4 linked regions of the Homo sapiens genome follow. The protein of the gene in region 4 purifies or fractionates together with the protein of the main gene of each other region. This does not show direct contact. Each region holds a gene or a part of one and is shown on either strand. Other genes may lie near its edges.

Region 1 (7,284 bases), on a different chromosome or scaffold from region 4:
CTAGTACCATATGAAATAACTGTTCAATGGTGTTTTGTTTTACTCTGAATTAAAAAACAAAAAACACAGAAAACCACTTCTCAAGAGCATCCCCTGCTCCTATAGGCCCTGAGTTATTGAGAAACCTTTTTTCCTTAATACTGTCCTTCTTCCAATCCGCTGGAATGACCTGCTCCTGTTTTTCTTTGTTCATTCAGTGGACCAGAAGAATTACACACTGGATCCAAAGGTGGAGGAGGCCTGCCTGTGGCCCTGGAAGAGCCCTGTCTACAAGGAAGATGGCTTCACACACTGACAAGTATAGGACAGTGGGCAAGTGCCCCACAAAGGCGTGACAATGTGTGACATGGTGGGAATGGTGGGAACTCGGAACAGGCCAAATTCTCTCCCAAGGATTAAAGAGAGGACGACTTGATCGAAGAGGTGACAGCTGAACTAGGCCTTTAAATAATGAGCAGGAATTTGCTAAACTCCACAGCTGTGTTCTTCTGAGTTCTCAGGCAGGCCAACCTCGGCAGCCCTGCACATGGCTGACCACCTTTATTTCTTGAAATGCTCTCTGTTCCCACTTCTCGACCGCACACTCTCTCAAGGGCTGCTCCTCCGCAGTCTCCTCTCCTAATTCCTCCTCCTCTTGCATTCCCCAGTGATCTGACCTCAGCTCTATTCTTTTCCTCTTTCTACAGTTTCCTTACAAATCACAGCTACTGCCACAGCATCAATTACCGTTTTACTTGTCTGATTCCTCCTTTGAAAGCATCAGCCCCAAATCCCACTGGCCCCATGGCAACAATTTCCCCAAGCAGCTCACTATCAACCCCTCTCGCGTGGAATTCAGTATCTGCCCTTCCAACCCAACTTCTTCTCCTGCTTCCCTATTTCTCATTCTTCCCAGTCTGGGAGAGTCCGCTGTATTTTAGGCACTGTGCAAAGTCCTGGAAAGACTAAAATGAGTAAGATGCAGTCTCTGCCTCCAGGAAGCAATCACCTGCACTCAAGTCCTTAGTGACATCTTTCTTCCTCTCTTGCTGTGTCCAGATCTCCCTTGTATATGCCCATTTGCCTTACCCTGTGGCTGCCCCACCATACCCAGCTCAGGTTCCTGCAATAGCTTCCCAGAGGGTTTCTCTTGCCTACAATCCTGTCCCCTCCCCAGCCAGCCTCGACTCTCCCACCCATGTCATCTCCCTATAGCACAGCCTTCCTGGCCTCCTGGCTGCTCAAAGACCTCCACTAGGTCTCCACGGCCTGTTTTAGGAAGTCAAATACCTCATCCAGACACCTCAAACCCTCATAGTCTGGGCCCAACCTAACTTTTCACATTTATCTTCCAGTAGTTTTCTGCATATACCTGTGCCTCAAGTTTTACTCTGTCCTCAGCTTTGATCATGTCATCCCTCCTGCCTGAGATGCCCTCTCCTCTGTTGAAAGCCACACATTCTTCCAGGGCCTGACTCCAAGGCAACCCACATCACGAACCTCTGATGCCCTTAACCGCCCAGCAGCCATGCTCCTTCACGCCTGTCAATCCCCAGAGCTGTGCTCCCTCTTTACGTACTTAACGCTTCCAGCCACACCGTGTGGAGCTCCTCTACACCAGGCTCCATCTCTGGAGGGTGAGCACGCGCTCCACTACCATCTGTCATAGATGAACGAATGCAACACTCAGAAAGCGGTGCGGGAAACCAAAAACTGGCTCTGAAGGGCCTGGTGCTGTCACCATATTCTCTCTGAGTGACCTTCCCACAGAGCTGGCTTGGAGAGCCACCAAGGAGAAGTCATTCTTTAGGGTCAGAGAGCTTGCTGCTCAGGATGTCTTCCTCTCCTCTGTCCTGATTCACTCTCGAGTATTTTCACCAGATCTATCTGGGTCTTTCTCCCACCGTGCCATCACAGGCTAAAATAACCCAAAGCCATCATATTTGTCTTTTCCAATTCAACTCCCAGGACACCCCTCTGCCTTCTACCTTTGTAATGGCCCAGAGACACTCACGTTCAGGGATGGAAGCATTGTGCAGGTTGTTCCCTGAAAGCCGGGCCTGGAAGGCAGAACTGAAGAAACCGTCACCAGGGCCACTGTGGGGAGAGGAAGAGCAGAAGAGAGTCAAGTTAAAGGAGTGAAAGTGTGATTTCCCAGGAGCGCTGGGAAGAGCTCTGCTCAGATAGTTTAAGGAAAGTAGAATCAGATCATGGGACAGAGGTGGGTGATGGAGTTGGAGAAACTGGGGTCCAAATCCCAACTCAGCCACTTACTAGCTGTGCGACCTTGGGCAAGATAACCTTGTTTAGCCTTAGTTCCTCATTTATAAACTAGAGATTTAAAGAAACCAAGAGAAGTCACAAGTGATTCTGATTAAATGAGATAATGTGTACAAAATGCGGAACACAGTTCCTGATTCTCAGTAGCTACTCATTAAGTGGGAGCTGTTGCCGCCGGAGTTACTGTTATTGTTACACTCACTCCTACTGCACATCTTATTGTGGCCTATCCTTGCTAAGTACAGGGGACTCTGTTTAGAGATAAGGGACAATTTGGCTATAACGAAAATAGCTTCTTCCTTCAGGTTAGGGTGCTGGCCTTTCTGAGCCCTTAGCATATACCCAAAGGATAGAACATAGCAGGAAAGAAACAGGAAAAAGCCCCTGGGGTCCCTCACCTATCATTTTAACCACAGACCCAGAAAATCATCCGACCCCTCCACAGGCTTAGGAGCAAAAGGAAAACCAGAAGCAAGATGCTGCAAAGGCTCTGTCTGTACCTTTTACTCAGCACCATGAAGTGAACAGCAAAGGTGGCTGTATAGAGAGCCAGGGGCAGCACTATGAGGCACAGGACACGAGCAGTCAGGTGTTTTCCCACAGTCACCTGCAAACAGAGGCCAGCGTGGGGTGCTAGGCATGTGAGACCTCATTATTCCTTAGGCACTATGCATGCATTATATATAGCTTTTAATATATCAGTCATAATCATAAAAAATGGCCAAGAGGAGAGAGAAGAATATGTGGAAACCCTAAGCCTTTCTGTAACACCCACCACCCAAGCACTACACAAGATAAACATGGGCCAGCCCTCTGCTACCTCTCCAGGCTCTACACCCAAAACCCCAGGATGTTACTGTGCCAAGGACAAGGCACCTGCATCTGCAACACAGTTGCTCACCAGTCCGCTCCATGTTCCAGGTACACTAACCTCCTTGAACTTTCCCAGTGCTTCCTCTACTGTCCCAGCCCAACCCATCACATGGCTAATGGCTCCTTATCTTAACTTCGCGGCTTCCTTCCAGAGGCCTTCCTGGATTGCCTGGGACTGGCCGAGTGCCCTTTTCTGTGCTCTCCCAGCACTCCTGGCTGACTGTAACTGCCTGCTTCCTTATTTCTCTCTCTCCATTGACCACAGAGGGTGGGGACCATATTATATTCATCTGTATATTCCAGCACCTCACACACAGTGGCTGGATGATCTTTACACATTTTCTGAATAAATGAATGAATGAATGAATAAACTTGTTAGGAGCTGGTTTGGAGGTGATGGAGCAGCACCACAGCAGAGTGATGGCCTGGGGCCAACCTAACCTGGTTGTGACTCCTAGATACACCTCTCACTCCCCGATGGCCTCGGGGAAGTCATTACCTCTGTAGGTTTTGATTTCCTCATTTGAAAATCAGGGTAATAACTCCCTACCTCATAGGACTATTATGAGGGGTAAATGAGATAATGAAGGTAAAGCGTTTCGCATAGTGCCTGGCATAGAATCAGCCCTTAATAAATAATAAACTGTAAAGGCCCTTACTGGCCTCCAAATATGGAGACCGTGGGTCAGGAAATGAAAATTGTGAGTTCAGACCGGGCTCGGTGGCTCATGCCTGTAATCCCCGCACTTTGGGAGGCCAAGGCGGGCGGATCACTTGAGGTCAGGGGTTTGAGAACAATCTGGCCAACATGGTAGAACCGCATCTCTACTAAAACTACAAAAATTAGCTGGGCATGGTGGTATGTGCCTGTAATCCCAGCTACTTGGGAGGCTGAGGCAAAAGAATCACTCGTACCCAGGAGGCGGAAGTTGCAGTGAGCCAAGATCGGCCCACTGCACTCCAGCCTGGGTAACAGAGTGAAACTCTATCTCAAAAAAAAAAAAAAGACAGACATTATAAAACAAATGCAAAAAGAGACTTCCAAGAATGTTAATCTATCCTCTCCCTTGAACCCTATCCAGTCCTCAGCCGGGCCCACTCCCTGATGTCCTGCTGTCTGCGGAGGTTGGGGGGTCCAGCCCACCTGGGACCCAGAACACAGCCACTCTGCCACCTGCAGTAGAGACAGAGAAGGCCACCAGCTCCTACTCAGCAACATCAGGGAGCAAAAACATTTCCACAGCAAACCCTTGGGTGCTCACCAATGAAAGACTGAGGTCTCCGAACAGGTACCAAAGGTCTGCAATGGTGTTCAGCCCCACTTGAAGGATGATAAAGAGGCCAACAAACTTGACCCCTAAAGCACCAGCAAGACTAACGCCAGTCAGGCTGAGCCAGAACCACCAGGGGGCAGAGAAGGGCCTGAAAATCAACAAGACGGAGTTCAATTTGGCAGCTGGAACCAAAGCCAAACGCAAGCGCAGCAGGGGACAGGGCAGTTCTCAGACTTGGAGCGGCTGTGCTGTGCCCTGTCTTGGGGGCTCTTAGCCTCAAGGGACCATGGCGTGGCTCCATGGAGGAGGCGGCCTGTGAAACCCCTGGAACGGCAGGAAAAGCACTGTCTGAGGGCGCAGGGTATTCTTCAGGGGAGAGTGTCCATAGTGCTCCTGGCTAAGTACAGGGCTCAGGGTAAGTGGGGGCTCCTTCTTCACAAGTGACCAGTCAGGCAGGAGTAAAAGGAGAATCCTTAGGTGCCCCTGGACTCAGGCAGCCCTCTCCTTTGTGTCACCTCTGCCCTTGTCGAAGGCAGCATTTACCGAGTGCTTACTATGTATGCGTCACGCATCATTCCAAGTACGATGCATATATTAACTCTTCTAGCCGTCACTACAGCACACAGAGGATCCTGTCACTAGGTCCTCTTTTTGCACAGGAGGAAATCAAGATACAGAGAGGTGGAGTAATACAGCTAGCAGGCAGTGGGGCACAGTTTTAACCCAGGCAATTGGGTCAATGTTAGTGCTCTTAACCATTTTGCTATTCGTATAGCACCTAGTACTCTACACTATGATTCTCTGGCTCTCTGGCTGCCTCCTCTGCCAGAGTGAATATTCCTTAACAGCCAAGCCCAACAGAGCTCAGTACCTCCAGCTCCCCGCATAGTACCTGGTACACAGTATGTACTCAAGAAATGGTAGATGGAAGTGGATGTGGCATAAGCACAACAACCAAAGCCAGAGTGGGCTGAGAGTCACTGATCAGGTTTGATTAGCACAATGGAGCTTAATGAGCCTGGCTGTGCAAAGTTAACTTCCAGAAAAGCCTACGAGGGGCCAACTCTTCTGGTTTGAATAGAATGAATGACTTATTCTACTTTCTCAGAAGTAGAAGGATGATCTGGAAAAGACTATTCTGCAAGTAGACCGGACCCTCCAAGTCAGCTTTAGAACTGACCAGGACCTGGAAGGATCCTCTTGGCTGGTATGGACCATTCAAGCCAACCTTTACATATGCTATTCCCATCATTAGGTCAGGACTGGATGCAACCACTGACGAAAGGGAGATAGTTTCCAGGCAGCATCTACCCTGGTGCCCTCCCTTCTAGGACAGAGTATGTGAAGGACAGCCCTGTCCCGGGATTTCCTAACCAGCACTGGTTACAAGAGGTGGGTGGGGAAAGTATTAGGACCCCCCATGATATCCCAAAACCCCTACCCAATTGTACTCCATTGTAAACATGATAATAATAATACGCTTGAAAAAGACAACTGACATTTTCTCGGTCTTGAATATGGCAAAAATAAAATCACCTGTAGAAAACTTTTTAAAATCTATTTTTATGATCTAAAATGGACAATCTAAGTTAAAAAAACAAACAAAAAGTATGCTTGCCTTAAAATCAGCTTCAAGACAAGTCTCTGGGCACCCGCCCTGGCCCTGGCCATTACAGAAATTTTGGAGTTGCCACAGCTTCCAACCCTCCCCTCCCGGGGATGGAGTTTCTGACCTGTCGGCGCAAGAGTTGTACTTGACCATGCTCAGCATGGCAGCCATGATGAAGAACATCAGGATGGGGTCAAGGAGGATGTACTGGGACAGAGTGAGGCATCCCGTGTCTGAAAAACATGAGCTCGCTGGTGAAAAAGCGAGGTAAGAGAAGGGCCCCCTGAAAACCAAGCACCCCAGTAGTAGGAAACAGTCCCTCTTGCCACTTAATTGAGTGTAAGCACTTGTGCAGTCAGGACTAGAGTCAACACTGAGTCATCAGGGAGGTAGAAGGCCACAGCTCTGGGAGACATCAAAGCCCAATGACAAGAAGCAGTAACTCACACTGCCTCTAGGCCCTCAACCCAAGAGAGGATCATGTCATTCGCTCCCTCAGACCAGCCCTGAGACAAGGTGTCATCCTCATTTCCACCATCAAAAAGGGAGTCCTACCACTCTGCTCATGTAACCGCAAACTATCTACACCTATGATAGAATCTTATCATTTTACATGAAGTCTCTCTTGGGGGTCGATTCTCCAGACAGATGGCAGAGTGATGTTTTTTAATTTAAATCCTTAAATCTCATTATGTCATGCCCCTGCTTAAACCCTCCAATGTCTTCCAACCTCACTCAAAGTAAAAAGTTCTCATGACAACTGCCAGAGTCTGTGCGGTCTCCCTACCCATCTAACCTCATCTCCCAACACCCTCTGCCTCACTCACTCTGCCCTTTCCACGCCAGCCTTCTTACTGTGATTTGAACCCACAGAGGTCCACACCAGAACTACAGTACATGCACTTCCCTCTGCCTGAATGCTCTTCCCTCAGATCCCTGCAGGGCCTGATCCTTTGTCTCACTCAGGTCTCTGCTCAAAGCTCCCCTCTCAGAAGCTCTTTCCTGACTATCCTGTCTAAAATAGTACTGATCTCCATTATTCCATCCCTTACACTGCTTTATTTTCTACACTGCACTTGTGGCTTAGGACATCACATGACAGACTTATTCATTTACTTGTTTATTTACTGTCTGCCCCACGATGAGGTAAGCTCAATGAGACCAGAGTGACTCATCAGTGTATCCTCTCAGACTAAGAAAAGTGGCCGGGAGCTGGGTAGGTGCTTGAGAAATAACTATTGAATGAAAAGTACATAAATGACTAAATGA
Region 2 (7,284 bases), on a different chromosome or scaffold from region 4:
GCTACTGAGCAACAGTTGTACTTTCACACACAACCCATTTATAGGAGCTTCAATTGCTGAACATTTTTGTCTTGGTCAAATCCTTTTAATGGCTTGATCATAAGATATAGCCTCCTAGAATAATATTTTGGGCAATAGGCTTTTAAGTCACTTTTCAAGTTCATCTGAATTTAATATTTCTAGTGTCAAAAAACTGGTGACAAATAGTTGATGAGCGAAGTTTCTCTAATGAGTGACATGACCCTTGGCCCTTCATAAAACATTCTTTGGGGGAATAATTTTACATGGGCAACGTGCTGAAGTTGCAGTAGACAGAATAACAGGAGTCCGCCTATCTGGACTTAATATATCTTAAAAAGAAAAAAAAAACGCTTAGTTGCAATGTTGAATTACTCTCCCTAGCAAGGATCAATAATCCCTCACAGAGATAACTGGGATTGACTGGCTAATACATCTTTCATTTTTAGTCCCCATTACTGATTTTATTACTTCTTTGTGCTATTTTTAATTTATATTATCTAATTGCATAATATTATCTGTGAAAATGTTTTGTCCTTTCTGGGACAAATGCAGCTATGTATTTGAGTAGGTAAACTAAATAACTCAAATAATTTATGAGATAATGCTTTACAAGTTTGGATATTCATTGGTGTGTGCACACACTGAAGAATCAGAATTAGGAAGTATTGTATTTAAAATTAGTTAAAAAGAGGTAGACAGAGATTTTTATGTAGACTTCATCTTTGAGAATAGATTAATATTTCTTAAGAATTTTAAAAGCATAAAGCTAATGTAGTACATACTGATGACATATTACCTACCTTGTATATAATCAATACACAGTAAATCAGAATAGTATTTATTAGAGAAAGATAGCTGAACTATAGGAAAAGTAGTAAGCCATCTTTAAGTGACATATATTAAATATGATTTGTAATATTTTATCAAACCCTATGTAATTGACCTGGTCTAGTTTCAAACACTAGAAAAAGAAATTAGTACAATTAAAGGAAATAATAGAAGTCTAATATGTGATAGCATCAGAAACCATCCAAAAGAAACTAGAACTCTGTAATAATAAGACAATGGCTGTATAACAGGTTTTTCAATTCACACTAGAACTCTGTAATAATAAGACAATGGCTGTATAACAGGTTTTTCAATTCACTGAAGACAAATATAACTAACAAAAATATAATAAAATTAACTTTTATATCTTCAGGATTGGAATATAAATGGAGGCAACAAATATACCATAATTAACATTTACTATGAGTTAAATTGATTGGAATTGTGTTTGAAAGCACAATTTCTGTGGGAAGGACATATAAAAGAAGCAACTGTCAAGTTTATGCTAACCATGAAAACTACTGAAATGAAAAAAATCTACCAGCAAGTATGTCATGTTAATGAGAAAAACTATGGTTAAGACATTACGTTTGAGTTAAAATTGCAATTTGTATCCTTGAATTCTTGCGGACAGTGACCATTAATTTATAGTATTTTAATCCAGTAGAAGTGTGATCTTACCAAGACATTGTTATCAAAGCAGACATCAGGCCCTTTTCGGTATCTGGGTTGCTTAACCATGTCACAAGGATTTGGACCGTCAGCTAAAAGAGACTTGTTAAGGAATCTCATGTTAGTTTTTTTCACATGATTAAAAATAAATACAATGCAATGTATTTCCCAAAACATGTGAGAGAGATAACTTATACATCATTACTCTCATCCAACACAATTCAAGTACATAGGGATTTAAAGAACTAAATTGTGAATTATCCTTTTCTGGGGCATGTGTAGCATAATTATTCTTGACATTCCAACCAAATTTTGAGTGAGGAATCGATTCTGCCTTTGCGAGGTGATCAGAGCAGTCTAATAGTTTTCTCTTTATGAATATAAACAATGTGACAAGATTCAAAATGCATTAAGATGGTTTTCCTTTCCAGATAGCTCTGATGTCAAAGGATACAAGTCTGCTCCGCTTGTATGAGCAGTCGTGTGTCACATGGACATGTCCCTTTGCTCTCAACCATTATGAATATTAAGTTGGTGTTCATAAGCTTTTCTCCATGAAAGATTCTGCAAAATAAATATGGTATCATAGAAAATGAGTATCTTTTCCAAAATAAATGGAAATCTTTCAAAGATTCTTACATATTAAAATGAAAGACAAAATATGACATCTGAAACAGAAACCATTCCCAGCACAATAGGAGTATGATTTTAGAAGAAAAAAATGCTTCATTTATTAGCATGAACGTATTACCTATGTCAAATGAATAAAAAAATTGCAATATATGTTTTATGTGTGACCATTTTAAAGTATTAATCCTCATTGCAAAATAAGCACAATTTAGTTGTTGATGTACATAGAAAAAAGTTTTTCTTTACACATACAAAGAATTGTGATGCTTATGCCAAAGTTGCCTTATTTTACAGATAACACAACAGGGAATACAAAAATGTCTAGGCATCTTGCCCAACCTAAGGGCAGAGAAAAGTCTGGAACAGTGCTATTAAGCAAACTTTCTGTGAAGATGGAAAAGTTGTTCGCACTGTCCAATATGGTAAATACTAGCCACTCGAGGGTATTGGGCACTTAAAATGTGACAAGTGTGACTGAGGCACAAAATTTTAATTCTAATTAATTTAACTGTAATTGAAATTTCAATAGCCACCTATAGGTGGTAACTACTGCACTGGGCAACACAGACATGGACAGAATCAAGGGTTTTGAATTCCATCCCCTGTTTTGTCCACACCTTAAGCTGCTCTTACTTTAGTAACCAACATAAAAAATGTAAATATATCACTAAAAAAGTAATTTCTTTATCATTATACATTTTGCAGAAAAGTGGGATTTTCTTTTTGCCCTGTTAAGCTTTGATTTCCATAAAGCAAATCAAAAGGAAAGTATGATGCAATTTAACATCTTGGTTATACTGACCTTCTTCACTTTACAATTTAACTTACTTCTTTAAGCACACCAATTGCTCTTGCTGGATGTCAATTAATAAAAGGCCAATGTCTGTGAAACTCTGATGTATCCAATAAACATGCCACAATCCCATTTCCTGAAGTCCATAGCCTGATATGCTAATCTCCTCTAAACAAGACAGTCTGCTTTTTTTCTGAGTTCATGCTTGACTCTTCCTTCCCTTTCCTCTCCTCTTTATATACTCTACCTCCTCCTTGGAGATAGAGGTCTGCTAAAGAAAGTCATAAAACATACTGACCACGTCTCCTAAAAATTCATGATAGGTTGCTTAGCCCCTCTTGCAAAATTTTTTTTTTTAACTATTCTGGCACTTTCATAATCTCAGATTACCTCACCTCCTCCTATTTCTTCTTCCGCTATGGTAACATTTCTTCTAGAATAATCTTCCCTCCACCTCTAAAAACAAAGTGTCTCTACTCTGTGCTTTGTAAGCTGTGACTTGCTGCTCTCCTCTCAGGAATCCTGTGGCATTAATTATTACTTTCCCCTCAAAATCCCCATCTTGCCTTTCTCCTCTACCCTCATTACAACAAAATTAAATTCTCCATCTCTTTTTAAAAGATATTTTATGGATACTGACTAACATTAACCATGACCTAAAAAAACTGTATTTTTCCCAGTTCCTTCAAATTCAAATAAAGATAACATTCAGTTCTTCAAGTCAGAGAAGACTAGAAGTAAAAACAAAACAAAACAAGACTTTTTTTTTGTAAATCTGTTTAGTTACTATATAGAAAAATAAATAATATTTGGCTTAGAATTATTTAAATTACTAATATATTTAATAACTTTATATTAGAAATTTTTAATATGGGTTATTTTAGGAAAAAAAGTTAAAATATAATCAAATTTCTCTATGTTCTGCCTAAAGAGAAAGGAATTATCTTGATCATGTAATTATTATAGTTGAAGAAATAACAGCTTATCAAAGTTAGAATTTTAAAAATTACAAATTTTAAAAGTCTACAGAGAAACTAAAGATTGCTGACATTTTCAGCTTAAAACAATTACTCACATCTCTGACTCCAACACAATTTTCAGTTTTTTCTGTAATGATTATAACAGTATATACAATTTCTTAATGATTATAACAGTATATACAATTTCTTAATGAAATAGGACTACTCCTGAAATAAATAAATTACCTGGAACAGTTTCCACAGTCTAATACACCACTGAATGATTTACTGTCGTTATCGAAGAAATACTGGGTTTGTTCAGTAATGCAGCTCTGCTTGGACAGGGAGGCCGTGAAGTCATCATCCTCCATCTCAACTTGGGTGGCGGGGGACGGTGTAAAAACAAAGAACACCATTAGGAGGGGTCTCTGTAGTCACTCCCCTCGAGTCTTCACTTCTCACAGAGCAAAATAAACGTATAAGACCAGGACCCCTCGACTGGCTTGTTTACTGCTGTGTAATATCGTGGCAGCCCGTAATAGATGCCTGATAAATATCAAGAGAATAAATGAATTCAAATACAAGATGGCTATGAGATCAGGCCCGTGTGACCTAGGTAATTTCTAAAACATTAGGAAAGGTTGGACAAAAAGTTTCTAGCTCTAAAATTATGAGATGGGTGACCTGTTTTCTCTTTCACACAAATATTCTCTGAATTTGTTGAACTTCAAGCACATCCCAAAAGAAAATTTTTATTGTTATGGCAATGACAAGGTCTGAGCATTTACATACCTGCCTCAAGGAGTCGTGGAAAGGTCAAACTCAAGAGAAACTGCTGTAGAATAGACCTGAATTTTTCAAATAAAAAAAAAATAAACATCTAGGGAAAAAATGTGTTTTTACATGTACCCATACACATAAATACTGTTTCCCTTTATCTTTTTGGGAAAGAAAGTCTTGGAGTGTTTTTATTTAAGTATTTTCAAAATTATATAACACATTGTAACCTTTTTGTAATGTGTAAAAGAAGTCATGAAATCAGAAGTGTTCAGATCTTGTTCAGGATCAAGTGGGACACAATGTGTGAAGAAACCTAACAGGCAATGTTATCAAGCAGAAGAGTTCACTCTAAGAGGGAGAATGTCTGTTTCAGCGCGTAGGTTTTCACATTCATTACGTCTCCTTATTTTAGTTTTTAAAACCATTTGTTTTTTGGGTTTCCCCCGCCCCCAACAAAGAAACAATGCTGTTTATACCATGGGTTTGAATTTGTTAACTATTTACTTTGTAATATAGAATATATTTGTAAATATGTAATGTAACTTTCATGAAACAAAATATACATATTAGAGAGATACAGCACATTTCAGTTTTACAGTAACTGACAACTGAGCCAAATTTCTAGAACTGAATTTAGTTTAAAAAAAAGTGGGGGTGGGAGGGGATATAGGATAAAGCCAAGTATTTCAGGGTCATGATGAAATTTTAAAAGCCTACTGAAATTAATATATAAAATCACATCAGAAAATACCATTTTTCAGAATAAAACAGAATTTTCTAAATCTTTTAAAAACTCTCAAAATTTTAAAATCTTTTTTGCTGCTTTAATGATATAGTCACTTAATTTTAGCTGGGCAAACCTCAACATCAAATGAATATTGTACATTAATCTACATGGAATAGGGCTAACAATACAGTGTGATGATACAAAAAAAAAGATTAGAAGGGAGAGAGGGAAGAGGGAGATCATGGATTCCAGACGTAACAGGAGGTTTAGTTACAACTAAACAATGAGAAATGTGATCTTCCAGACCTTCCACAGTGCCACAATTGACCATTTAAATGTCTTATTTTCATAGGTTGTAGGGTCTACAGGTGAGGGTTGAGGGAGGTTTGGAAGGTAGCATCAGTGAAAAGAAATAATTAGATCCATGTCGGCAACCTGATGCCCCTAAAACAATACTAGTCCTTGTATCAATAGTAAAGAGGTAGAAGGTTGCCATCATGCCATGAATTTGATGCATGTAGACATCCAACTGGGATATTAAAGACAAATTGTAACTTCTTACAGATCAATACACCTAAAAGAAATTAGTGTAATGTTTTTATAAATATTTAATACAAATGAAAAGAGTTTCAATAGATATGTAGAGGAAGGAAGACTCTAAAGAGGCTGAAGTTTACATCCGCATAACATTGTTTTCATATGAGAAACTGAATAATGGTAACTTTATAGTGTTCACTTAGGAAAAACTATAAATATTACCAATAGGTGATGTAAAGAATGAAAACAACTTAACTCCCTTAATAAAAATTTGAATATCCCCTAAATCCATATTTTCATCAGATGCTTTTTTATTTTACAACTTCTTTCTTTCATTACCAATAAAACTAAAATTTTGACTTACCAGGCAGCAGCAGTGGCCCACCAGCCAATTTGTAATATGTCTGCTACTGATGGCTATAAAATAAAATAATAAGGTCATTTCAGTAGTCTACTTGATACTGAGGACACTTGAGTACCCCTTGAGAATTGATTAGACCGTGGATATTACTGACCACATATGCTGAGCGATGTCCTGCTCCTTGTTTTGGTGCAGCACCGGGCTCACATACTGACTGATAATCATAAGATTTGTTAAAAGCATAAACTGATATATTAACCAGGTGTCTCATCAAGCTGGGATCAATCTCTCCAAAAAATCTTCCAATCTGGTGAAGAAAAAAATCATAAAGCAACGTGCACTTAAAATGTAAGCCAAAAATGAACACGGGAATCACCACTACAGTGAAAAGAAATAATACAAAGAAACTGAACTACAACTGAGGAGCTTAAAAACAAAAGCAAATGAGAAACGTGTATATGACACTGTGAACAAACTAAAATGAGAGTAAGTGTTCTCATTACTCAGTGGGGCTGTGTGATATTTTATTTGTGGAAAGAATGGACACACATTACTAAGCATTAAATCACAATCAAATGCTTCCCAGATGAATAAAACAGGGCCGGGGAATGGAGAGGTATAAGTGGAAGGGTACAAAGAAGCAGTTATGTAGAATGCATAAGCCTAGAGATTCAACATACAACAGAGGACTGTAGTTAATAATACTGTGTTGTCTACCAGAAATTTGATGAGAGTAGATTTTAAGTCTTCTTACCATACCGCAAAAAAGGTTAACAACCTGAGATGATGGATATGTTAATTGGCTTGACGCAGTAATCACTTAACTATGCAAATCAAAGCTTTTTTTTGTACACCTTAAACATATACAATAAAAAAAAGATCAAATGCCCCCCTGGGGAATGGAAAAGTGGCATAAATGAGAGAGCAGGCTGGCCTAGAAAACGAACTTGTAGGGGCTGTGATGAACTGGAACAAG
Region 3 (7,284 bases), on a different chromosome or scaffold from region 4:
ATGTGGAATTTTGTTGTTGAAGCAGGGTCTCTGTCACCCAGGCTGGAGTACAGCGACGGGGTCATAGCTCACTGCAGCTTCAACCTCCTGGACTCAAGCGATCCTCCCACTTCATCCTCCCAAAATGCTGGGATTACAGGCTAGGATTACAGGCGTGAGCCACCATGCCAGCCCCCATGTGGAATTTTTTTTTTTTTTTTTTTTTTTGAGTTGGAGTTTCACTCTTGTCGCCCAGGCTGGAGTGCAATGGCACAATCTCAGCTCACTGCAACCTCCACCTCCCGGGTTCAAGTGATTCTCCTGTCTCAGCCTCCCGAATAGCTGGGATTACAGGCACCCGCCACTACGCCAGGCTAATTTTTGTATTTTTAGTAGAGACCGAGTTTCACCATGTTGGCCAGGCTGGTCTTGAACTTCTGACTTCAGGTGATCCACCCACCTCGGCCTCCCAAAGTGCTGGGATTACAGACGTGAACCACGTGGAATTTTTAAACCTTGCTCTTTGTTTTATGGAAGTGAGTTCATGTTGTGCCCCCTCTGCATGTTGCTTTCTTTCCTCATATTTTGCGGGAATCCCTCCAGCCCTTTGCTGCAGCTTTACAGCAGCTGGTTCCCAGTGAACTGGGAGTTTTAAATGTGTCCCTCTGGTCAATCTGTTCATTAAATAGGTGGACTTTAGAAAGGAGTTCCCGATTGCTCTTACTGGAATGCAAGGGATGGAGCAGAGAACCCTGAGGCTGCACTGGGGATCTGTCTAATCTCACTGTGCTCAGTCTTCCTGTGTATTAAATGGGGAGCCTGCCTGCCTCCCCCAGGGTGGTTTCCCAGCCAAGTGGCCACATGCTTTCTGCAGAAGGGCTGATAAGTGGGCTGCCCCGTGGAGTAGGCAGGCTTTGGCTCCCAGCTAGATTTGAGGTGGAATTTTGGACAATGGAAGAATTTTCATTGTCTTCTTCCCCTGACCCCTGGTCCTAGGAAAGCCAGGCCACCCTGTGCTAACCCCCCTCCTATGGCTCCCTTTTAGGTTGAACCATGATTCCGGTGACAGAGCTCCGCTACTTTGCGGACACGCAGCCAGCATACCGGATCCTGAAGCCGTGGTGGGATGTGTTCACAGACTACATCTCTATCGTCATGCTGATGATTGCCGTCTTCGGGGGGACGCTGCAGGTCACCCAAGACAAGATGATCTGCCTGCCTTGTAAGTGGGTCACCAAGGACTCCTGCAATGATTCGTTCCGGGGCTGGGCAGCCCCTGGCCCGGAGCCCACCTACCCCAACTCCACCATTCTGCCGACCCCTGACACGGGCCCCACAGGCATCAAGTATGACCTGGACCGGCACCAGTACAACTACGTGGACGCTGTGTGCTATGAGAACCGACTGCACTGGTTTGCCAAGTACTTCCCCTACCTGGTGCTTCTGCACACGCTCATCTTCCTGGCCTGCAGCAACTTCTGGTTCAAATTCCCGCGCACCAGCTCGAAGCTGGAGCACTTTGTGTCTATCCTGCTGAAGTGCTTCGACTCGCCCTGGACCACGAGGGCCCTGTCGGAGACAGTGGTGGAGGAGAGCGACCCCAAGCCGGCCTTCAGCAAGATGAATGGGTCCATGGACAAAAAGTCATCGACCGTCAGTGAGGACGTGGAGGCCACCGTGCCCATGCTGCAGCGGACCAAGTCACGGATCGAGCAGGGTATCGTGGACCGCTCAGAGACGGGCGTGCTGGACAAGAAGGAGGGGGAGCAAGCCAAGGCGCTGTTTGAGAAGGTGAAGAAGTTCCGGACCCATGTGGAGGAGGGGGACATTGTGTACCGCCTCTACATGCGGCAGACCATCATCAAGGTGATCAAGTTCATCCTCATCATCTGCTACACCGTCTACTACGTGCACAACATCAAGTTCGACGTGGACTGCACCGTGGACATTGAGAGCCTGACGGGCTACCGCACCTACCGCTGTGCCCACCCCCTGGCCACACTCTTCAAGATCCTGGCGTCCTTCTACATCAGCCTAGTCATCTTCTACGGCCTCATCTGCATGTATACACTGTGGTGGATGCTACGGCGCTCCCTCAAGAAGTACTCGTTTGAGTCGATCCGTGAGGAGAGCAGCTACAGCGACATCCCCGACGTCAAGAACGACTTCGCCTTCATGCTGCACCTCATTGACCAATACGACCCGCTCTACTCCAAGCGCTTCGCCGTCTTCCTGTCGGAGGTGAGTGAGAACAAGCTGCGGCAGCTGAACCTCAACAACGAGTGGACGCTGGACAAGCTCCGGCAGCGGCTCACCAAGAACGCGCAGGACAAGCTGGAGCTGCACCTGTTCATGCTCAGTGGCATCCCTGACACTGTGTTTGACCTGGTGGAGCTGGAGGTCCTCAAGCTGGAGCTGATCCCCGACGTGACCATCCCGCCCAGCATTGCCCAGCTCACGGGCCTCAAGGAGCTGTGGCTCTACCACACAGCGGCCAAGATTGAAGCGCCCGCGCTGGCCTTCCTGCGTGAGAACCTGCGGGCGCTGCACATCAAGTTCACCGACATCAAGGAGATCCCGCTGTGGATCTATAGCCTGAAGACACTGGAGGAGCTGCACCTGACGGGCAACCTGAGCGCGGAGAACAACCGCTACATCGTCATCGACGGGCTGCGGGAGCTCAAACGCCTCAAGGTGCTGCGGCTCAAGAGCAACCTAAGCAAGCTGCCACAGGTGGTCACAGATGTGGGCGTGCACCTGCAGAAGCTGTCCATCAACAATGAGGGCACCAAGCTCATCGTCCTCAACAGCCTCAAGAAGATGGCGAACCTGACTGAGCTGGAGCTGATCCGCTGTGACCTGGAGCGCATCCCCCACTCCATCTTCAGCCTCCACAACCTGCAGGAGATTGACCTCAAGGACAACAACCTCAAGACCATCGAGGAGATCATCAGCTTCCAGCACCTGCACCGCCTCACCTGCCTTAAGCTGTGGTACAACCACATCGCCTACATCCCCATCCAGATCGGCAACCTCACCAACCTGGAGCGCCTCTACCTGAACCGCAACAAGATCGAGAAGATCCCCACCCAGCTCTTCTACTGCCGCAAGCTGCGCTACCTGGACCTCAGCCACAACAACCTGACCTTCCTCCCTGCCGACATCGGCCTCCTGCAGAACCTCCAGAACCTAGCCATCACGGCCAACCGGGTGAGTGGCCCGGCCACAGCTCTGCGTGTGGGCTGGCGGGTGGCCTGGCCAGGGCTTGTGGTGGGGCACTCGGCAGGCTCAGTGTCCTGGGACCGTCGATGCCCCTGAGTGTGGAGTCCTCACCTGGGGTTTACAGAACCATCCAGGATAGAAGCTCTGTTCAAGAGACAGACTCCTTGGGCCCCATCCCAGGCCTGCTGAATCCGAATCTCTGGGCCCCGGGCCTGTCTTTGCTCCAAAATGTTGCAGTTCTCCTGCCTGGAGAGACTGCATGGCCAGGCAAGGTCTGTCCCCCAAGGTGACCTTGAGCCGGGTTCCTCTTCAGCAGGGATGTGCTTGGGCAGGAGGTCCAAACCCGGGGGTTCTCTCGCAAAGCCGGGTGGTGGGAGTCAAGACTTAGCCTGGAGTTTGTGTCTTCCTCAGCTTGTTCCCAGTCGGACTTGGAGGCAAGGAGCCAATCCGGGTCCACCCAGGACAGAAACTGTGTGGGTGGCCAGTGCTGGCTGAGGGGAAGCCTTGGATGGTCTCTGCAGCTCCCACACACCTTTCTCCACTGCATTTGGTGGTGTCAGAGGCAGAGTTGGGCCTAGATGGGGCTAGTTTGTTTCTGCCTGCCCTTCTGAAAAGGAAATTGTGCAAATCATTGTCACTGGGAGTTTGGGAGGCCACACCTTCGACATACTTTCAAGACTGTTGGTGGTCTGTGGGTGCCAGTCTCTTACCTGGCTGGGGAAGCCCCCATCCAAGGGCCCCTTGGTGGAGGCAGGCAGTGTGGATGGAGGGCTGGGTACTCCTGTGGCTCTGTGGTCTGGCCTCCGAAATGGAAACAAAGCCACTGCCATTGTGGGGAACGTCCCTCTTCCACCCGTCCTGGGGACCTGCAGGTTTTCCTGGGCCTCACATCCAGGTGGAGATTCCTGTAGTGAGACATGTGGTGGAGGAAGCCTGAGGCCAGGCGCTGGGAGACAAGGGAGAGCCCAGCCAGCCACCCTTCTGCCCCCGACACAGCAGCAGCTGTCGTGCCGGGCCCCTGTGAACTTCACTAGGGATGCCACCAGGTTCAGGAGGCTGAAGAAGAGACTCGGAGTTGACCAGGCCCAGTGGGTCAAACCTGTAATCCGAGCACTTAGGGAAGCCAAGGTGGGGCGGTCACTTGAGCTCAGGAGTTCGAGACCAGCCTGGGCAACATAGGGAAACCCCATCTCTACCAAAAATACAGAAATGATCCAGGCATGGTGGCATGTGCCTGTAGTCCCAGCTATTTGGGAGGCTGAGGCAGGATCGCTTCAGCCTAGGAGTTCAAGACTGCAGTGAGCTATGGTTGTACCACTGTACTTCAGCCTGGGCAATAGAGTGAGACCCAGTCTCAAAGTAAAATGAAGAGCCCTGGAGCCGGCCATTGAAACATGGGGTTTATTTGGGGGAACTTACTTACAGGGTGGTCCAGCAGCAGTGAGCCAAATAGGAAAACCACTCCTGCTTATAAAAAGCGTGCAGCTCATAGAGCATTTTCACTAAGCACCCTCCCCTCTGCAGCCTCCGTGTGGCAACCCGCGTTTCTTAGTTCGGTTGTTGCTGTTGGGTGCATCTGCCATGCAGCAGCCCCACGGTGCAGTCCCTGTTGGTTTCGTGGGCACCTGCTCTGTGTTCGCCCTGTGCCAGGCATGATGCACCTGTCCTCCTTCCACCAACCTGCTGAGTCCTCCCAACAGGGTCTGTCTATAGCATCCTCAGGCACGGAGGGAGGTGGCCCCTGGAATGCCCGGTCTGTCTATAGTATCCTCAGGCACGGAGGGAGGTGGCCCCTGGAATGCCCTGTCTGTCCTCCTGGGCCCCAGGACAGGACACACCTTCTCCAGCATCACTCAGACTAGATGCTTCAGGCCCTCCAGATGCCTGCTGGCTTGGAAGCCTTCCTCCCCTCTTCCCCAGGGCTCCCTTACTGCAGAGCAACCTGCAACCCACATGTATCAGGGATTTTGACAAGTCCTTATCTCCGGCCACCCCATATTATGACTTGAGCACAGTGGGAGAGTGGACCAGGGCAGGGTTTTCTCTTGTAGTTTCGGGACAGGCCCACTGAATAGGAAAACTGGAGTCCCCTGGGGAGAAGCCACATTTGGGAAGCACAGAACAAACCCAGCCCTTCTTTAATCTGTGGAGGGGGAGACCCTGTGGCTTCCCCATAGCACAGTGCTGCCCTTGATAAGCTGGGACTTCCTCACAGCTCCTGCCATTCCTGCCCTGTCCCGGGTGCTGTGCTGGGGCTGTCCTCCTGGTTGGGGGAGGGTTCAAGCCTCCAGCCTGGCTCCCCATCCTGTCCCCCACCCCCAGCTCCTCCCGCCAAGCTTGCCTGTTAGTGTCATGCCTGCTGGCTGAGGTCACCCCTCAGGAAAGGAGCTGGCGGCAAGCACGCTGTCCCAGAGGAAGGAGACCCTCTGGACACCCTGTTTAGCACATGGCTTAATCACATCCTGTCCCCACCCCCTGGAACACCAGAGCCTTAATAGGGAAAACAGTTCACTTGGGCCAACCCCAGGCAGGCCCCTCATTCTGAGTGGGAGGCCTGAGCCCCTCTTCCTCCTCACTCGGGCTTGATGGCTCCTTCTCAGCCACCTTGGCCAGTGGTGACCAGGAGGGGTGGGCGTGGCCTGCCCACGCCCTTGCGTGCTGTTTCTCCAGATTTATACTCTTGCTAATGAAAGCCTTGACAAGACAGTATTCATTCGTTCACTCGTTTACTGATGTGTGCAAATTGTTATGTTTTGTTTGTTTGTTTTTTTGGTAGAGACAGGGTCTCACTGTGTTTTCTAGGCTGGTCTTTAAACTCCTGGCCTCAAAGCCTCCCACCTTGGCCGCCCAAAGTGCTGGTATTACAGGCATGAGCCACTTCGCCTGGCCTTTGTGCAGATGTTTTTTGAGCACTTCTAGAATCCAGCTATGGAGCAAGGCGCCGGGGACATGGGGATGAAGAAGGCCAAGTAACGAGGCAGTTAGCACAGTGCGTAGGCGCTCTGCTGGAGCACCAGGTCCCTGGGAACACAGAGGAACAGGCCCCTGAAGAACGAGGAGGAGGAAGCCAGGTGGAGGGGAAAGGGACAGTCCAGGAGGTTCTGGTGGGGAGGAGCAGTGAGATGGGCTGCCCAGGAATGTGGGCATCCTGGAGAGCAGAGGTGGGGCTATGGGGGGGGGTGTGGATGGCAGGGGGGTCCTGTCCTACACCTCAGTTTCAATTGTCTCTTCATTTGTTTAACAGCCGATCCCTTGCCAGCCCATAGGCTCTGATGACTAAGACCTAGCTCTTTTGTTCAAGCAAGTGTTTACCGAATTCCTAGTGATTGAGTGGGTGAAGGAATGAGCTGACTTGCAGCGTGAGGTTCCTCTTGCGGTAGTGTGTGGGGTGGGGTGAGTGAGAGGTGGGAGGTGGAAGAGAGCTGTTAAGAGACCACGATTAGCCATCAGGTGAGGCCACGGGGCCTGGCGTGGCCAAGGCAGGTAGGGATGGAGAGACATGGACGGATCTGGGAGACGCTGGAGGGGGAATTCAAAGGGACGGGAGTTGATGGTGGGGGTGGTCTGAGTGACTTGAGCTTTTTTTTGTGGATTGTTGAGACTGGAGGAAGCACAGGTTTTCAGAGGCCAAGGTGTGTCTCATGTCAGGTGTCTGGGGCTCTGGGATGTCCAAGGGACCATCTTGAATCCACCTGAAGCCCAAGGAGTCACCCTTTCCAGGCTCATGGGTGAAGATGGGTCCTTGACTTGCTCACTGTGGAGAGCAGAGAGGGAGAAGGACAGGAGTCTGCAGAAGAGGAGGGCGAGGCCAGAGCGTGGGGCACATGGGGCCTGGGGAGTTGGCTGGATTAGGAACTGGTGACTTTGGCCAGAGAGTTAAGGGTGGACAGGGTCATGGAGGCAGAGTGAGGAGAGAGACAGCGGCTTTCCTGCAGTTGGTCAGGAAGGCCAGAGAGCCAAGGACAACGCTGGGGCCCTGGAAGCCTCCTGAGAGAGTTGTCCTTTTCAAAGATCAGGTCGAGTTGAGGCCTTTCAGTGCCGATGGGGACCCACTGAAGTCTCTGGGGAGGTAGGAGAGGGTGC
Region 4 (7,284 bases):
AGCACTTTTTAAAGTCACAGGTGGTCTATACTTACACTATTTAATCCTCATAAGGATGCTGTAAATTAAGACCTATTAACATCCCCTTCACAGATGAGACTATTAGGACACAGGCGAGTCTCACTTCCTTCCCCAAAGCCTCCGCTGGCATTGCACCACTGTTGTCTACTATTGAATGTGGCTATGGAGAAATCTGGGGCCAATCTGATTGGTTTCCCCTTAAAGGTGCCTTGATCTTTTTGCCTGGATGCTCAAAGGATAACTTATTTTTGAAGTCCAGTGAACCTCAGTGGGATATGTCACAGGGGTCATTCTTGTCAGTTTTTCTTGGGACATTCATTGTATGTCCTTTCAATCTATAGATTAAAGTGTTTTAATTTATGTGAAGTTTCCCTTGAATTCTACTTTGAATATTTTTTCTTTTCCACTTGTTCCCATTCTCCTTCAGTTCCCATTCTCCTTCATATGGACATGGTGGATATACTTTGTCTTTTTTATCTATACATTTATCTTAAATTCATTTTATTATTTTTAAATTTCCATTTCATTTTGCTTGCATTTCTCAACCTTGTCCTCCAAAGTTTTTTGTTGTTGTTATTGTTTTTGTTTGTTTAAGACAGGGTCTCACTCTGTCACCCAGGCTGGAGTACAGTCGTGTGATCTTGGCTCACTGCAACCTCTGCCTCCCAGGCTAAAGCGATCCTCCTACCTCAGCCTCCCAAGTAGCTAGTACTACATATATGTGCCCCCAAACCCAGCTAATTCTTTTGTATTATTTGTAGAGATGGGGTCTTGCTGTATTGCCCAGGCTGCTCTTGAACTCCTGAGCTCAAGCGATCTGCCTGCCCAGCCTCCCAAAGTGCTGTTATTACAGGGATGAGCCACCACGCCTGGCCTAGTCCTCCTAAATCTTACTGTGTTTTATCCCTGTCTGTCTTTCCCCTCATTTATAATGTGGCTTTTATTTCTAGATGTTTTATTTTCCTTCCTGTCTGAGTTCTGTTAGCTTATTTTAAACTTCCTTCTATTGCCTCATCATTTCTTCTGCTTTGAAGTCTTATTTTAAACTGGTTCAGTAAGTCCTTTAAATTCATAACAATATGTTTGGTCTGTTTCATAGCAACATTCTTCTAGAAATTTTTTTCTTTTTTTTTGAGACGGAGATTCGCTCTTCTTGCCCAGGCTGGAGTGCAATGGTGTGATCTCGGCTCACTGCAACCTCCGCCCCCGCAGGGTTCAAGCGACTCTTCCACCGCAGCCTCCTGAATACTTGAGATTACAGGCATGCGCCACCACGCCCAGCTAATTTTGTATTTTTAGTAGAGGCGGGGTTTCTCCATGTTTGTCAGGCTCGTCTCGAACTCCTGACCTCAGGTGATCCACCTGCCTCGGCCCCCCAAAGTGCTGGGATTATAGGCGTGAGCCACTGCACCCTGCCTAGAAAATTTTTTTTATCTGACATTTGCTTTTCCTATTCCATTCTTCCTAATTCTTGTAGATTTGCTGTATAGATCTTTTGCTTGTTTGGTTTTGATTATTACTCATTACTGAGTGAAATGAGGTCTCCTTCAGCCAGCCATGTGCGGGAAGCAACTGGGCAGTGAACTGAGCTGGTAGTGAAGCTGCTTCTGGCCCTCTCTCCCAACCGTAGTTCATCAACAGACTGCCTCCAGCAAAGAGAACATTTCTGAGCATTTTATCATTCAGGCCTGTCTTATCTTACTATTTCATGGTGCCAAATAGAGTTCTGGGAAGTTCCCACAGCTTGTGCCCCTTAAATCTTTGTTGCAACCAGGATAATGGTTGTGCTCTGCAGATGTACCACCTACTTGGTGCTCTGCCAACTTTGTCTGAGAGTGGGGACCACAGCAGGTGTTTAATCTCAGCATACTTGTAGGCTCTGGTGTAATCTTCACTGAATTTGGCAGGTCATCCTCATTTATTGTGCCTAGGGTTTCATTGGTACCATATTTTTTCAGAGAGTGGATGGGTTTTTTTCCCTTTCTTGTTTTTGGGTGATCTCAAGGATGACAATGTGACAGAGGTAACTTTATTTTGTTATTCTAAACTTTATTTATTTTAAAACCAGAAGTTTTTTTTTTTTTTTTTTTTGAGATAGGGTCTCACTCTCTCACCCAGGCTGGAGTGCAGTGGCATGATCTCGGCTCACCACAACCTCTGCCTCCCAGGCTCAAGTGATTCTTCTGCCTCAGCCTCCCGAGTAGCTGGCATTACAGGCGCCCGCCACCACGCCTGGCTCATTTTTTTATTTTAGTAGAGATGGGGTTTCACCATGTTAGCCAGGCTGGTCTCGAACTCCTGACCTCAAATGATCCACCAGCCTCGGCCTCCCAAAGTGCTGGGATTACAAGCGTGAGCCACGGTGCCTGGCCTAAAACCGGAACCATTTTTAAAGATAGAGTGCCTCTATTCTTGGAAGGAGTAGGTAACATACCACCTTAGACCATGTCATGTGGGAAAAATAGTTTCAAAATTCTACGCACACCCCAGCAGCAACAAGCTTTCTCATAATCATATAGGTATAAGTAACAGAGCTTAGATCAAATCCAGGTCTGTCTAAGTCCAAAGCCTCAGTTCTTTTTGTCATAGAACTTACTCATAAAGGATATAGATATCTCTTTATGCTTCTTCTTGTGAATATTTTTCTATTAACTACTTTTTTATTTCCTGGTTTTTAGTGTGACAAGTACAAGACTGGAGTTATTGATGGGCCTGCATGTAACAGCCTTTGTGTTACAGAAACTCTTTACTTTGGAAAATGTTTATCCACCAAGCCCAACAATCAGGTATGGCCATTATGAATAAACATTCCAGAATTATAGTGTACTCTAATTTTACCAGAAATTAAAGGCATTATTAAAAGAATTCTTGAACCAAAGCTTTGAGACATTATATGTATTTCAATTTTGTATGCTTTGATTCATTCATTAAACAGACATTTATTTTATTTTAATTTTTTGAGACAGGATCTGTTGTCCAGGCTGGAGTACAGTGGTGAGATCTCTGCTCACTGCAACCTCCACTTCCCAGGCTCAAGTGAGCCTCCCACCTCAGCCTCCCATGTAGCTGGGACTACAGGCTCACACAACCACACTTGGCTAATTTTTTGTATTTTTGTAGAAACAGAGTCCCGCCATGTTGCCCAGGCTGGTCTCGAACTCCTGAGCTCAAGCAATCCACCCGCCTTGGCCTTCCAAAGTGCTGGGATTATAGATGTCAGCCACCACACCTGGCCAGTCAAAAGATATTTATTAATCTATCCCCAGTATATTCCAGACACTGTTTTGTTTTGTTTTTTTTTTTCTGTCAGCACTTTGATGTTAGATGCTGTTTCAGTTACCAGGAATACAATGGTGATTAAGGCAACCTGGTGCGGTGGCTCACGCATGTAATCCCAACACTTTGGGAGGCTGAGATGGGAGGACCACTTGCGCCCAGGAGTCTGAGACCAGCCTGGGCAATGTAGTGAGACCCTGTCTCTCCAAAATTTAAAAAAAATGCCAGGTGTGGTGGCACACACCTGTGGTTCTAGCTACTCAGGAGGCTGAAGTGGGAAGATTGCTTGAGCCCAGGAGGTTGAGGCTGCAGTGAGCTATGGTCCCACCACTGCACTCCAGCCTGGGTGACAGAGTGAGTGAGTGTCTCAAAAAATAAAAAATAAAAATAAAAAAATACAAACAGCCGGGCCCGTGGCACGGGCCTGTAATCCCAGCACTTCAGGAGGCCAAGGTGGGTGGATTGCTTTAGTCCAGGAGTTTGAGGCCTACCTGAGCAACATAGCAAAACCCTGTCTCTACAAAAAATACAAAAATTAGCTGGGTGGCCAGGCACAGTGGCATACACCTGTAATCCCAGCACTTTGGGAGGCTGAGGCGGTAGGTCACTTGAGGCCAGGCATTCAAGACCAACCTGAGCAACATTGCGATACCCCCTCTCTACTAAAAACACAAAAAATTAGCCGGGTGTGGTGGCACATGCCTGTAATCCCAGCAACTCCAGAGGCTGAGGCACAAGAATCGCTTGAACCTGGGAGGCGGAGGTTCCAGTGAGCCAAGATCTCACATCACTGCACTCCAGCCTGGACAATAGAGCGAGACTGTCTCAAAAAATATATATGTATTAGCTGGGTGTGGTGGCACACACCTATGGTCCCAGCTACTCGGGAGGCTGAGGTGGGACAATCACTTGAGCCCAGGAGGTCAGGGCTGCAGTGAGCCGTGTTCATGTCACTGCACTCCAGCCTGGGTGACAGAGTGACACCCTGTCTCAAAAAAAAAAAAAAAAACAAAAAAAAACCAGACAAGATTGCTTCCCTTACAGACCTTACATGATTCCAGAGGGACAGGAGGTACAAACAGTTGATAAATAAATAAATAAACAAACAAAATAATTGTAGAATATGGTGTGTTCTGTAGGAGACACAGAGGGCAAATTGATAGAGAATGCAGTGTAAGGGATGGTGAGAAGTGCTTTAGAGGATGTGATCAGAGAAGACCTTTCTGAAATAATATTTGAACTTATACCTTAATAAAAAATTCATAGGCATGGGAAAAGGACAGGATGAACTAAATCACAAAAGAACTGCAAACAGCTGATGAACATAATGAAAAAAAATTCTACCTTACTTTTCATCAGAGAAATAAGAATAAAACAGTAGAATATCTAATTGGGGTAGAAGAAAATACAACGAAACATCTGGAGCAGTGGAAAATTGCATTTTAATGTTCATCTTATGGTTCCTAAATTTTCCTATATAAATATGCATTATTATTATAGAAATTTAAACTAATTTTTCAGTTGACAGTATTAATCATGTTAAAGACAATTTCTAAAACAAAGTCCAACATTTGAGTGTCTCCTGCATGCCAGGCACTGTTTGAGGCACTGAGGGAGACAGATAAAGCCTCTGGCCTCATGTTCTAATGTGAGATGAGACAGATAGTAATGAACTGATAAATAAATAAATATGATAATTTTAGACAGTGCAAAAGGCTATGAGGATAATGAAACAGGGTTAGAGGTGACCTGGGGGTGGAAGAGGATCTCTTCTAGACAGGGGGTCAGGGAAGGCTTTCTAAATGCAATGTCTAATCTGAGACTTGAATGATGTAAAGGAGCCAGCCATGTGAAGATCTGGGAGAGTACATTCCAGGCAGAGCCAGCAGCAAGTGAAGCAGGTCAGGAAGCAGAAACAAGCTTCAACCTGTCACAGAAAGACCAGTGTAGCTGGGACTTTGAGAAACGGAGTACGTGGTACAAGATCAGGTTGGAGACATAGGCGAGGCTAGCTCAAATGGAGCCCAACCGGTCATGGAAAGGACTTTGGACTTTAATTGAAAGGGGAATTTATTAGAGGGTTTGGAGCAAGGCAGTGAAATAATGTTTTCTTTGGATTAATATTAAGAATGAATATGATCTTATTTATTTTTTTATGTAGAAGAGGGGCAACCTATCCTAGTGGTAAAGACCTCAGCTCTTTTCAGCATGTTACTTCACCTGTATCTGCTTCAGTTTCCCCATCAGTGAAATAAGTATAATGATAGTACCTACCACCTAAGATTGGTACAAGGATTAAAATAATAACATAAATCAGTAAAAGCCAGGTGTGGTGCCTCATACCTACAATCCCAGCAACTTGAGAGGCTGAGGCAGGTGGGTCACTTAAGGCTAGCAGTTCAGGACCAGCCTGAGCAATACAGCAAGACCCCATCTCTACAAAAAATGTTTTTAATTAGCCAGGTTTAGTGGTACATGCCTATAGTCCTGGCTACTTGGGAGACTGAGGCAGGAAGATTCCTTGAGCTCAGGACTTTGAGGCTGCAATGAGCTATGATTATGCCACTGAACCCCAGCCTGGGTGACAAAGCAAGACCCTGTCTCTAAAATAAATTAGTAGACCATAGGACATAGTTAACACTATATAATATTAGTTTGATAAATAACTAGATACTTAAATAGTAGTTAATTCTGGGGAAGTGGGATTATGGAAGTAGAATGTCTGGGAACTTTGCTTTTGCCTTACATCCTTCTCATTGGACTTTTTGAAAAATATATTTAGGCATGCATTACTCTTATAATTTAAAAAATTAGTTTAAGGAAAAAATCTTGAGTGTGATTTCAAGTTTGCAGTTCAGAAATAAAGTCACACCTTAACCTCAATGTTTGATGCTTGTTTTGTTTTGTTCAGAGGAGGAGGACCCTAAAAATATAGTAGTATATTTTTTAGAGTTTTCTACTCAGTATAATACATAACTTGCCACTCTTTTTTACATAGATGTATTTAGGGATTTGGGATAATCTACCAGGTGTTGTGAAATGTCAAATGGAACAAGCGCTTCATCTTGATTTTGGAACTGAATTGGAACCAAGAAAAGAAATAGTGCTATTTGATAAGCCAACTAGAGGAACTACTGTACAAAAATTTAAAGAAATGGTCTATAGTCTCTTTAAGGTAAGCATACCCATTCATATGTTGCTAGTGTGAAGTGGGACTCTTTAGAGGAATTGGCAGGACCTCATCCTAAGCCATTAAAGTGTTGATATTCTTTGACCTCTATCAGATTCTCCATCCTGAGGAAATAATTATAAGAGGCCGGGCGTGGTGGCTCACGCCTGTTATCCCAGCACTTTGGGAGGCCAAGGCAGGAGGATCACTTGAGCCCAGGAGTTCAAGTCCAGCCTGGGCAACATAGTAAGACCTCAGCTATATATATATATATATACACGTATATATATATATACGTGTGTGTGTATATATATATATATATATACACACATATATATATACACACATATATATATATATATATATATATATATATATATATATATATATATATATGCCAGGAGTGGTGGCATGTGCCTGTAGTCCTAACTACTTGAGATGCTGAGGTGCGAGGATTGCTTGAGCCTGGGAGGTCGAGGTTGCAGTGAGCCAAGATCTCACCACTGCACTCCAGCCTGGACGACAAAGTGAGACCCTGTTTCAAAAAAAAAAAGAAAAAGAAAAGAAATCTGTGTTGGAGAATGTTTACTTTAACATTATTTATGATAGCTAAAAATGTCCAGATATGAGGAGGGAGTTCATTAATTAATTGGAGTGCTGTACAGTTTGACATGAAAATTAATTCAAAAAAGGTGAAATAAAATGAGTATACTCTTAGAATTGTGGCTATTAGAGGCTGGGAAGGGTACAGAGGAGAGGAGAATAAGGAGAGGTTGGTTAACAGATACAAAATTACCGCTAGATAGGCAGAATAAGTT

What was found.
Region 1: the proteins of DIPK1A (region 4) and POMT2 purify together in Homo sapiens (co-immunoprecipitation; 2 studies listed by BioGRID and IntAct, with this or other methods). This does not show direct contact.
Region 2: the proteins of DIPK1A (region 4) and CACNA2D1 purify together in Homo sapiens (co-immunoprecipitation; 2 studies listed by BioGRID and IntAct, with this or other methods). This does not show direct contact.
Region 3: the proteins of DIPK1A (region 4) and LRRC8A purify together in Homo sapiens (co-immunoprecipitation; 2 studies listed by BioGRID and IntAct, with this or other methods). This does not show direct contact.

What each region holds. Positions count from the first base shown.
Region 1 is NC_000014.9:77,296,696-77,303,979, forward strand, and holds part of POMT2 (protein O-mannosyl-transferase 2), read right to left. Parts: intron 6,249-7,284; coding exon 6,140-6,248; intron 4,555-6,139; coding exon 4,395-4,554; intron 2,867-4,394; coding exon 2,760-2,866; intron 2,077-2,759; coding exon 1,994-2,076; intron 1-1,993. UniProt on the Homo sapiens protein: Transfers mannosyl residues to the hydroxyl group of serine or threonine residues. Coexpression of both POMT1 and POMT2 is necessary for enzyme activity, expression of either POMT1 or POMT2 alone is insufficient.
Region 2 is NC_000007.14:81,957,745-81,965,028, forward strand, and holds part of CACNA2D1 (voltage-dependent calcium channel subunit alpha-2/delta-1 isoform 1 preproprotein), read right to left. Parts: intron 6,616-7,284; coding exon 6,463-6,615; intron 6,365-6,462; coding exon 6,312-6,364; intron 4,752-6,311; coding exon 4,696-4,751; intron 4,280-4,695; coding exon 4,150-4,279; intron 2,086-4,149; coding exon 1,976-2,085; intron 1,614-1,975; coding exon 1,531-1,613; intron 1-1,530. UniProt on the Homo sapiens protein: The alpha-2/delta subunit of voltage-dependent calcium channels regulates calcium current density and activation/inactivation kinetics of the calcium channel. Plays an important role in excitation-contraction coupling.
Region 3 is NC_000009.12:128,906,133-128,913,416, forward strand, and holds part of LRRC8A (volume-regulated anion channel subunit LRRC8A), read left to right. Parts: intron 1-1,024; 5' UTR 1,025-1,032; coding exon 1,033-3,189; exon of another isoform or gene 3,190-3,808; intron 3,809-3,911; exon of another isoform or gene 3,912-7,284. UniProt on the Homo sapiens protein: Essential component of the volume-regulated anion channel (VRAC, also named VSOAC channel), an anion channel required to maintain a constant cell volume in response to extracellular or intracellular osmotic changes.
Region 4 is NC_000001.11:92,846,371-92,853,654, reverse strand, and holds part of DIPK1A (divergent protein kinase domain 1A), read left to right. Parts: intron 1-2,699; coding exon 2,700-2,807; intron 2,808-6,295; coding exon 6,296-6,472; intron 6,473-7,284.